Regions from separate parts of the Homo sapiens genome. Here region 1 is linked to region 2. Evidence: fine-mapped expression QTL. Tissue or cell type: skeletal muscle. Region 2 holds a variant in brackets; the other region holds the start of a gene. All regions are shown on one strand. Distances are between the middles of the regions.

Region 1 (5,228 bases), 120 kb before region 2:
ACGATAGCCTGTCATATTCTCAATCTGTCCCTTTTCTGAGATGATGAGACCATCTGGGCCCTGGGCTCCTCCTCCACATGGAGCAGGCTGTGGGCCATGACAGGAAGCCAATTCCTTGGATTGTTTGTATTAACTGGGATGACCAGGAGGAAGGAGACGACGGGCTGATCTGCAGGGCCTGTGGTTTCAGGTTGAGTTACCAACATCACCTCCTTAACTGGGGTGATAGAGGGCACCAGGAGACTATGCCTCAAGCTTTAACATTTGTTCCTTTGATTTCTCATCGCCTATTCTTCCTGTGTACACGCAGCCATAGGCCGCCTGCAGATTGTCTGAGTGGTTCCGCATTTTTGAACTGGAATAAAGGGCAATTGCTCAGCGGGTTCTCTCCTGCCCTGCATAGGCTTCCTTTTCCGTTTCCTGCTTTCGGGGAACCTCCTCCCCATCTTTGATTCATCTGTGAAATCAGCCTGGAGATGCCTGGGAAAGGGGCAGGGCTGCAGGGAGCAGGCTGGCAGGAATCCAGGAGGGGGATGGAGGGGGCTGGGCTAGGCAGGGCATGGGAATGGAGAAGGGGGTGGATTTGAAGGACACTGCAGAGAAAATCGACACTGCACGGCAGCCTAGGGTCAACTTTCCCAACCCAGAAACCTCAGGTGGGAGAAATCAGTGTGAATTTGCCTCCCTCTCTCTCTCACTCCCTCCTCCTGCAGCCCTCACAGAGAATCCACTGGGAAATAGAAAGGAAAGAGGACATTCTATTCCAGTGAGTCACCAGGTCCCTGAGTCTCTGGCCTGCTCTCCAGCCCCTCCCCACTGCCTCTCCTGGCCCCCAGTCCTTGTCTTCCCCCAATTCCCACCTCAGCTCACAGGCACAGGCTGAAGGCCTCAGAGCCAGGCTTCCTTCCTCGCTGTGGATCCCACTAGCTGTTCACAGAGCATATTCCAACGAGCCTCCAGGCTTCGGCACGTGGGCATCTCTGTTATCCACCCCATTGCAGAGAAGAGGAAAGTGAGACCCCAGCATTCTCCCAAGGCCATCCAACACCCTGCACCCCAGCACCACAGCCTCCACTTTAAAGAACTCCACTCGCTGCCTCCCAGCCCTCCCACCACACACAGGCACCAGCTGGGGCAGGATGGCTGAAAACGCAAGGCTTGGAGAAGAAACCCTGATCCAATTACCAAGGAAACTGGATTCAAGGCAGCCTGTGGATGGGGCTTCCTCGAGTTTCAGAGCTCAGTCTGCCCTGGACATGGGCTGAAAAAAGTACAGGGGCAGAGCCCTGGGGAGCCAGGCTCGCAGCGGCTCCAACCTTCCTCTCCCCGAGGACTGTCCCGCGGAAGGCCAGAGCCCTGCTGGTGCACACAGGACCTGCTGTGGGCAGGGTTTTGTGCAAACCCTGAATCCTCCCTCAGAGCTCAGACAGAGCCCACCCAATTCTTCCCACTCCACAACCAGCCCCTAAGAACCAGACAGAAGCCGCCTGCTCCAGCCACACGCTTCCCATCAGAGAGGGAGGTCCCAGGGCAATGAGGACACAGGCCAGGCAGCTCCCTCCCTCCCACTATGCTGCAATCAAGAGCCTCTTCACAAAAGCTTCTTAGTGGTTTTTATTTTCTTGGACTAAGGCACCGATGAATTGACTGTGCAGCCTCACACTGCCTTCTCCAAACCAAAAGGACATTCTCAGGGCCTCTCCCAGTGCCCTGCCCGCCAGAGGCCTGCAGCAGCCTGATGAGGAGGTCAAGACGGGCACTTCACATCCACTTGTGTGCTGGCTCTGCCAAGACACGCTTGTCATTTCTGGGGCTCACTGGGAGTCACTGTCACAAGACGGGCTGTCCAGCCCCGAAAGAGCACCCTTGCTCTCCACTCCCCAAACCCTTCAGCACTGCAGACCCAGTGTTCCTCCATTCTCTGCTGCCATAGTACACTGGGGCATGCCATGCAAATGCAGCTGGAGCAAGCCCCAGTCTATTGTTCCCCTCGTTCACCCCAGAGATGCATCCTTCCACATGGAAACATGGGGTCCACTTGTCCTGGGAACAGATGGGAGGGCAGGGGCAGCTGCTGTCCACAGGCACCGGCGACAGCAGCCTCAGCGAGCGTGGCGGGGATGGTGGCGGTGGGGGTGGTGGTGGTGGTGGAGGTGGTGAGGGGTGTGGCGGGGGTGGTGGTGGTGGTGGAGGCCCACATTCGGCACATGAGATACGTGGCCAGGATGACGGTGATGGTGAAAGATTCCCAGGTGGCCCCGCCGCCGGAAGGGCCAAGGCTGGGCCCGGCGGACTCGGTTTCCCCCTGCAGCTGTACGGTTCCTCTCCACGTCACAGTCCTGCCGTCCGTGGAAAAGGCAGGTGGCCAGCAGCAGCAGCAGCAGCAGGACCGCCACAGCAGCACCTGTGATCCATCCCACGAGGGCTGTGCTCCCCAGGAGGCCCAGCATCTGGGAGCCGGACAGTCCCTCTCTGCCCAGCAGCTCCTCACTCCTTTCTCCCCTTCAGCAGCCTCCGCTCAGCCCTCTCAGTCACTGAACTTTGTTGTCTCTGCTGCGGGCTGGAGAGCAGCCAGGGAATGTGGGCGAAGCCTGTTTGGACTTGCAACTGCTGGCCAAGGGTGAGGCCAGGCCGCTGTTAACTCTGAGGAGGCCTGGCAGGGAGGCCAGGTGGAGACAGAGGAGCTGTCAGGCTGGATCTGGTTGAGGGAGGAGCCCTGAGTCTAGAGGAAAGAAACCCTCCTGCTGCCTGGCTCAGTGACCTTCCCTCTCCGCACTTCAGTCTCCTCTCGTAGAGACTGTGTAGAACAGAGATGAACAACACGGGCTTTGGAGCCACGCCACTCACTTGCTCTGAGATTGTGCACAAGTTACTTAACCTCTCTGTCCTGTTTCCTCTTCTGTAAAATGGCTGATAACGGTTCCTTCCTCAGTAGGGTGTTCCGAGGACTAAAGGAGTTGAGATGCGTAAAGCAGCAACACCAGCTCCCGTCATGTTTGCAACTGATATTACTGCAATGGACTCCATGGCTCAGGAGACACTGACATCTGAGAGTCTGTGATTCCCTGTCCTGCAGCCTGCAGAGCCCTCCGGGGCTGAGTCAGGCTCTGTCAGATGAGCCATCCCGAGCTCAATGAGCTTGAGAAGCTCAGGGAGGCACCACAGGCAGATTTTGCCATCCAGGGAGGTCCTCCATCCGGCCTGTTCTGGGAGGCAGGAGGGTCTGGGTGTCCTCCCAAGCTTGCTGGGAGGCAAGAAGGAGGCCACTGAGCTCAGAGAGGGCAGGCACAGCCCAGCCTCCTGGTTCCCAGTTCAACAGTCTCAACTGGCCATAAATGGCATGCTCCTTGCTCTGTCACACCCTCCCTGCCCAGCAGTGATGAGTGCCATTCCTGCCTAGTGGAGCATTTACAGAGCGGCAGGATCTGAGCAGTACTGACTGTCCCTCCAAGCCCACCCGCCAGGCCCAAATCCCCTCTGTTCCTCCTGGGAGGCACCGTCCCATCCTGCTGACAGACCTCAGCAACAGGTGCTCACTCTCTCTCTGGGCAACCCTTTCTGCTGTGGGCATGCTGGGCTGTTCTCCAAGCTCTTCCTCACATGCAGTGGGGCTCCCCAAAGCCCCAGCTCTGTGTCTGGCTCTGCAGGGTCCCTCCAGGCTGAGTCCCCAGCCCCTCCCTCCAGGCTCATCTCCCTACCGCCTGGAGGAATGTCTGCAGACACCGCAAGGCTGGTTCTCTGAGTTCTGGCAGCACCTCCACCCTGTGATGTTGGGCAAACCCCTTGCCCTGATCCAGCCTGTCTCCTCTGCAGAACTCCCGGAGCAAGAGGTGACCTCCAGGGACCCTTCCCCCTCTGACCTCAGTCTGAGGTGAGTTCTCTTAGGGAGGCCTCAAACCCTTAATGAAAACCCTCACCAGATGAAAAGGCTAAACATTCCCTTCAACCAAACTGGGCTCAGGGGGCAGCAGGTCTAATGAATCCTGGCACTTCTTTGGCCCTTGGGGGAGCTACTTGAACTTTTAATGATGCTGGAGTAAGAACTCCTCCTGCAGACTCCTGGGGCCCTGGGAGCCCGGCTGCCTTCCCTAGGGAAGTTAAGGAGGGAAGTCTGTTGTGAGGAGGAGGAGGAGGAAGGCAAACAGGGGATTTTCGTCCTCAGAACTTCTCCAGGAAGACTCCCACCCCACACCAGCCGCTGGCGGCGGGGCAGGACCTTACAACTATGAACTTGAAGAACTTCAGTCAGCTCAAACGGCCCCTTGGAATCACCCAGACTCAGCCTTCACTGACAGATGGAGAAACTGAAGCCAGAGAAGGGAAACACTTGCCTAAGTTCTCCCAGCCTCGTGCGCTAATCTATACAGCAGGTACTCAACAGAGCACCATCCCTGCAGTGAGGGAGCCGTCCAGAGTGACAGCCTGAGATCAGCAGGGCCTTCCACAGAGACAGCGGGAAGATGAGGTGGAGATGTGAATAAACCTGGAGGGCGCAGGGGTTGGGAGTGCCCCCTCACACATACACATACACACGACATCTGTTTCCTTAGGTGCAGGTTCACTCTCCATCTGGGTAGTAGGATCCCAAAGTGAACATTTGTTTAGATGCTTTGGGCACTCCTGGGGGCAGTGAGGGACAGCCATTGAGAATACAGTCCTCCATGACTTAACCCATTTATGCCTAAGGTTGCAATTTTTTGAATTTTTGCAATCAGACCTTGGCAATGACCTTGATCAGTATGATAAAAATAACTCCCACATGCTTAGTGTTCCAATAATGGAACACTAGGCATAAATGTTAAGAAGTGACACAGCCAGGTGCAGTAGCCTGTAATCACAGCATTTTGGGAGGCTAAGAGGGGTGGATCATTTGAGCCCAGGAGTTCAAAACCAGCCTGGGCAACATGGCGAAACCCTGCCTCTATAAAAAATACAAAAGATTAGCTGAGCATGGTGGCACATGTCTATAATCCCAGCTATTCAGGAGGCTGAGGCAGGAGGGTTGCTTGAGCCTGGGAAGTTGAGACTGCAGTGGACTGAGATCACACCATTGTGCTCCAGCCTGGGCAACACAGCAAGACCCAGTCTCAAAAAAAAAAAAAAAAAAAAAGAAGTGACAGAGACCTTCTTGGAGGCTTGACTGTATACTGTACATGAGGGTTTGCAAGACTGATAACTTTAAGGACACTGTGGCTGTGTTTCCGGATCCCCCGCTTCAGAAAAGCTTG
Region 2 (5,228 bases):
ACAGGATTGCATCAAATTAAAAAGCTTCTTCACAGCAAAGGAGACAGTCAACAAAATGAAGAGGCAAGTTACAGAATGGAAGACAATATTTGCAAACTATGCATCTAAGGGGTTAATACCTAGACTATATAAGGAACTCAACAATTCAATAGCAAAAAAAAATCCCAAATAATATGATTTTTAAATGGGCAAAATAGACATTTCTCAAAAGAAGACATACAAATGGCCAACAGGTATATGAAAAAATGCTCAATATCACTAATCATCAGGGAAATGCAAATCAAAACCTCAATGAGATATCATCTCATCCCAGTTGGAATGGCTATTATCAAAAAGACAAAAATTAACAAACGCTCATGAGGATGCGGAGAAAGGAGAACTTTTATACTAGTGGGAACATAAATTAGTATCGCCATAATGAAAAACAGTATAGAGGTTTCTCAAAAAATTAAAAATAGAACTACCATATTATCCAGTAATCCCACTAGTGGGTATTTATGCAAAGGAAATGAAATCAGTATGTTGAAGAAATGTCTGCACTTCCATGTTTATTGCAGCTCTATTCACAGTAGCCAAGATATGGAATCAACCCAAGTGTCCATCAACAGATGAATGATAAAGATAATGTGGTATATTTACACAGTGGAATACTATTCAGCCATAAAAAAGAATGAATTCCTGTCATTTGCAGCAGCATAGATGAGCCTGGAGGACATTATACCACAGGATCTCACTCATATGTGGAATCTAAAAAAAAAAACAAAAACTGATCTCTTAGAAGTACAGAGTAGAATAATTGTTACCAGAGGTTGGGAAGCATAGGCAGGAGGGGTAGATGGGGTGAGGTGGGCCAACAAAGTTACAGATAGACAGGAGGAGTAAGTTCCAGTGTTCCCTTGCACAGTAGGGTGACTTTGGTTAACAATATTATTGTATTTTTCAAAATAGCTAGAAGAGAGGATTTTGAATGTTCTTACCACAAAGAAATGATAAATTTTTGAGATACTAATTGTCTTAATTTGATAATTACACACTATACATGTATCCATCACATTGTATTTCATAAGTATGTATAATTATTGTCAATTAAAAATAAAATAAAAAGAGAAAATTAAACTGAAAAGTTTTACAAGCAGAAAAATACTTCAGCTACGTTGAATAAATGAATAAATGAATAAAAAAATTAAGGGCCAGGCGCAGTGGCTCACGCCTGTAATCCCAGCACTTTGGGAGGCCGAGGTGGGTGGATTACCTGAGGTTGGGAGTTAGAGACCAGCCCGACCAACATGGAGAAATCTCGTCTCTACTAATAATACAAAAATTAGCCAGGAATGGTGGCACATGCCTGTAATCCCAGCTACTTGGGAGGCTGAGACACGAGAATCGCTTGAACCGGGGAGGGGGAGGTTGCAGTGAGCCGAGATCACACCATTGCACTCCAGCCTGGGCAACAAGAGCAAAACTCAGTCTCAAAAAAAAAAAAAAATTAAGTAACTTATTTCATAGTTGGTGTACTTTATTCAATAAAATAGTTAAAAGTCTGTTTTATCTGGCCTGGCGTGGTGGCTCACACCTGTAATTCCAGCACTTTGGGAGGCCAAGGAGGGTGGATCACCTGAGGTCAGGAGTTTGAGACCAGCCTGACCAACATGGAGAAACCCCGTCTCTACTAAAAATGCAAAAATTAGCCAGGCGCGATGGCACGCGCCTGTGATCCCAGCTACTTGGGAGACTGAGCAGGAGAATCATTTGATTCCAGGAGGCGGAGATTGCAGTGAGCCGAGGTCGTGCCACTGCACTCCAGCCTGGGCAACAGAGCGAGACTCCGTCTCAAAAAACAAAAACAAAAACAAAAAACCTTGTAATAATAAAGTTAGATTTCAATTTAAAATTGTGTGAGTGTTTTATTTTAAGGAGCTCATGAACAAAAATATTTGAGCTCTGCAGCTCAAAATAACACTTTGAAAATCAGTGACTAAACAATGACTCTTGATGCTACCAAACCTAAATCTTCCTTCTAATAATTATTTTCTAACGGCACCTTTACTAACTTAAAATAAAATGCATAGATAATACAACCTATCTCTACACATAATTTCAAAACATCAATAAAATTTCCTACCTGTAATATAGAAGAGAAATAATAGCCGGGCATAGTGGCAGGCGCCTGTAATCTCAGCTACTCTGGAGGCTGAGGCACAAGAATCCCTGGAACCCGGGAGGGGGAGGTTGCAGTGAGCCGAGATCACACCACTGCACTCCAGCCTGGGCAACAGAGTGAGACTCTATCTCAAAAAAAAAAAAAAAAAAAA[AC/C]GAGAGAAATAAAAGACAATAACTTATTTTAAAAACAGGTATTTCAATATGTAAATGGTTGGATATAACTGTGATAGAACACCAAAGGAGGCACTCAGCTAATTGTAATTAGATGCTTCCATCTAATTACAGGGAATGAATAAATTTTGATTTAAGAGATCTGAAGCCACTCCATAAAGAAAGATACTGGATTAAACACCAGTGTTAGGATAAGCAATAACAGAACAGATGTATTTATATATATATTTATATATAACACCCTACACAACTGTTTGGTGGAATATTTGAAGACTGTGCAGAACTCAGGATATCTAAATCATGCCGAATTCAGGACATTTATTTGACACCTAAAAGGTATTGCCAGTGTCAAGGTACAAGGATTAACAACCAAAACAAGGTGAAATTCCTTCTCTCATGGAATACATTCTTAATTATGTGGAACTGTCCTCACATTGCAGAGTCTAACATCTGCGGCCTCCAACTACTACAATGCCAGTAGCACCCACTCTCATCACTATAGCAACCAAGAAAATGCCCCTTCCCCTCCACCCCCTCCTGCCTGCCCCCCCACCCCCTCCCCCCACCCCCACTATCTCCTGCGCACCCACCACGGACCAAAATGCCCCTCCAGGAAAAGTACTACTGCTGTTCAGAGCCACTAGCCTGCAGGATGGAGAACAAGAATCTCAGTCCACCAGGTGGTCCTGGCTCCATCTTCCTCTCCAGCCTCCTCTGCAGCCACATATGCCTTCTAAACATATAGAGCTATCTATAGTCCTCTAAGTGGGTCATGTTATTCTATGCCCATGGGTTTTCTGTCAGCCTGAAATGTTTTCTCTTCCCTTGAGTTCTAATTAGTCTTTTTTGAGGCTTACTCAGGCCACTTTTCAATTTAATTTAATACATTTGTTTTAAAGTAGGTACTTTCTGCCCCATTAGATTGTGTATTCCATGAGAAGGAATTTTATCGTCCTTAATCTTTGTACCTTACATTGGCAGTATATTTTAGAATTCAAATAAATGTTTTCTCAATGGATATATGAGTATGGATGAAGGGATTCACTTTATTTTTATTTATTTGGTCATATTTTGAGACAGAGTCTCACTCTGTTACCCAGGCTGGAGTGCAGTGGCGCCATCTTGGCTCACTGCAACCTCCATCCCCCGAGACTCAATCAATCCTCCCACTTCAGCCTCCCAAATAGCTGGGACCACAGATGCACACCACCACGCCTGGTTGTTTTTTGTTTGTTTGTTTGTTTGTTTTGTATTTTTGGTAGAGATGGAGTTTCACCATGTTGCCCAGGCTGATCTCAAACTGCTGAGCTCAAGTGATCCACCCTCCTCATCCTCCCAAAGTGCTGGGATCACAGGTGTGAGCCACCGTGCCCAGCCAGGGATTCACTTTAAAAGAAAAAGAAATTCCTCTGAGACTGCAGGGAAAGGTGGAACAATGGATTCAGGGATAGATTTCGTGACGGATAAATTTAACTTATCTGTTGAGCATTGAGCTTGGTCAGGTATAAACATAACCTGCCACCCATCAGTCTTCATCTGTGCCATGACAAATGTCTCCTTTGTACCTCTTCACAACATCATGGTCAGAGTCCATAACACTCTGCTCCCTTTTGGTTATTTAAAGACTCAGTCCGATATGGCTTAAAACTCCAGTCTCAGGTCCAATGCAGAACTCATCTTAAGCCATGGCTTAAGGAACCTGCGGTGGAGAGAAGAATATGATCCCTTCTATTGATTCTGCTTCTCCTCTTCTAGTTCTCTGGAAGGTTCTCTAGAAGGGTTTTAGCTCCTTGGTGGTTGAGAACTAGGAGGAGGGCAGGGAGGAAAAGAACAACTCTCTTTTTATTTAACAAGGTAGTTATCACAAACCACTGTTTGCTGACAGACCATGCCAACCTGTTGTTTGGCAGATGTCAAAATGCTATCTTTCTTGCACATGGTGGCTCATGCCTGTAAGCCCAAGGCATTGGAAGGCTGAGGCAGGAGGATCACTTGAGCCCAGGAGTTTGAGACCAGCCTGGGCAACGTAGAGAGACCCTGTCTCTAAGAAAATTTTTTTTTAATTAGCCGAGTGTGGTGGCACATAACCTGCAGTCCCAGATACTCAGAAGGCTGAGGCAGGAGGATCACTTGTGCCCAAGAGATTCAGGCTGCAATAAGCCATGATCACAACACTATACCCCAGCCTAGGCAACAGACCCCATCTTAAAAAAAAAGATGCTGGCTCTCTTATGAGACAGTTATGTGAGTTCTTTAGAAGGTCCTACTGGGCTTCTCCACTGAGTTGTGCCCTAATGCAGAGAATCCTGATCCAAGCCATCTCTTTAACCCTCCTAACTTCTGTTCAGTGGCAGCCTTTTGGATGGGTTACCAGCATGATGGCTCAAGCCCGGCGATCTTCCTCAGTGTCCCTTTGATCACAGAAACTCACATACCCTTGCTAAGCCAAACAGAATGAATGCAGACTATTCCACTACTATCCCCTTACTCTGCCCTTCCTCCTTTCTCTAATTGCCTTTCCTCTTCTCAGACAGGTGCGGAGCTGAACAAATCCACTGTCTAAACAGATAGTTTAACCAAGGAATGAGAAATCAATCTCTCTTTCATGTAGATCTCTTTCATACTCCCTTGCTTACTTTAAGGGGGGAAAGGAGGGAAAAGTACTCCCTGCTAGGCTCATGACAGCCTCCCTTCAGTCATCTTTTATCTTATATAGCCTGGGAATGGAGGTGGGGTGGTAAGGTATGGGTTGGCTGGAAGTTGCAGGGCCACTTCTGCTACCTCTTTGTAAGCCCTGGAGAGGAGCTCTGATCCAATTATTAGCAACTCTCTCTAGAACGTGCAGTATTTAGTCCTCTTTGTCCCAGCTTTGGACCCTAGTCACCAATTCCAGGGCA

What was found. PIP is the estimated chance that this variant, and not a neighbour inherited with it, causes the effect.
Region 1: HRCT1 starts here. The variant in region 2 is fine-mapped to the expression of HRCT1 in skeletal muscle (FUSION, PIP 0.95).

Annotation. Positions count from the first base shown.
Region 1 is chr9:35,903,510-35,908,737 of GRCh38, reverse strand. HRCT1 (histidine rich carboxyl terminus 1) reads right to left here and starts at 2,536. Exons shown (of 1, transcript NM_001039792.2): 1 at 1,602-2,536. The coding sequence starts at 2,450. The coding sequence ends at 2,103. LOC124902149 (a long non-coding RNA gene) reads left to right here and starts at 3,068. Exons shown (of 3, transcript XR_007061471.1): 1 at 3,068-4,370. RefSeq lists an enhancer at 2,989-3,870.
Region 2 is chr9:35,779,069-35,784,296 of GRCh38, reverse strand. It overlaps a transcript of RGP1 not described here. Among named protein-coding and RNA genes, the nearest start is that of NPR2, 9.9 kb to the left of the region's middle. The variant AC/C (reference allele first, on the strand shown) is at 2,313.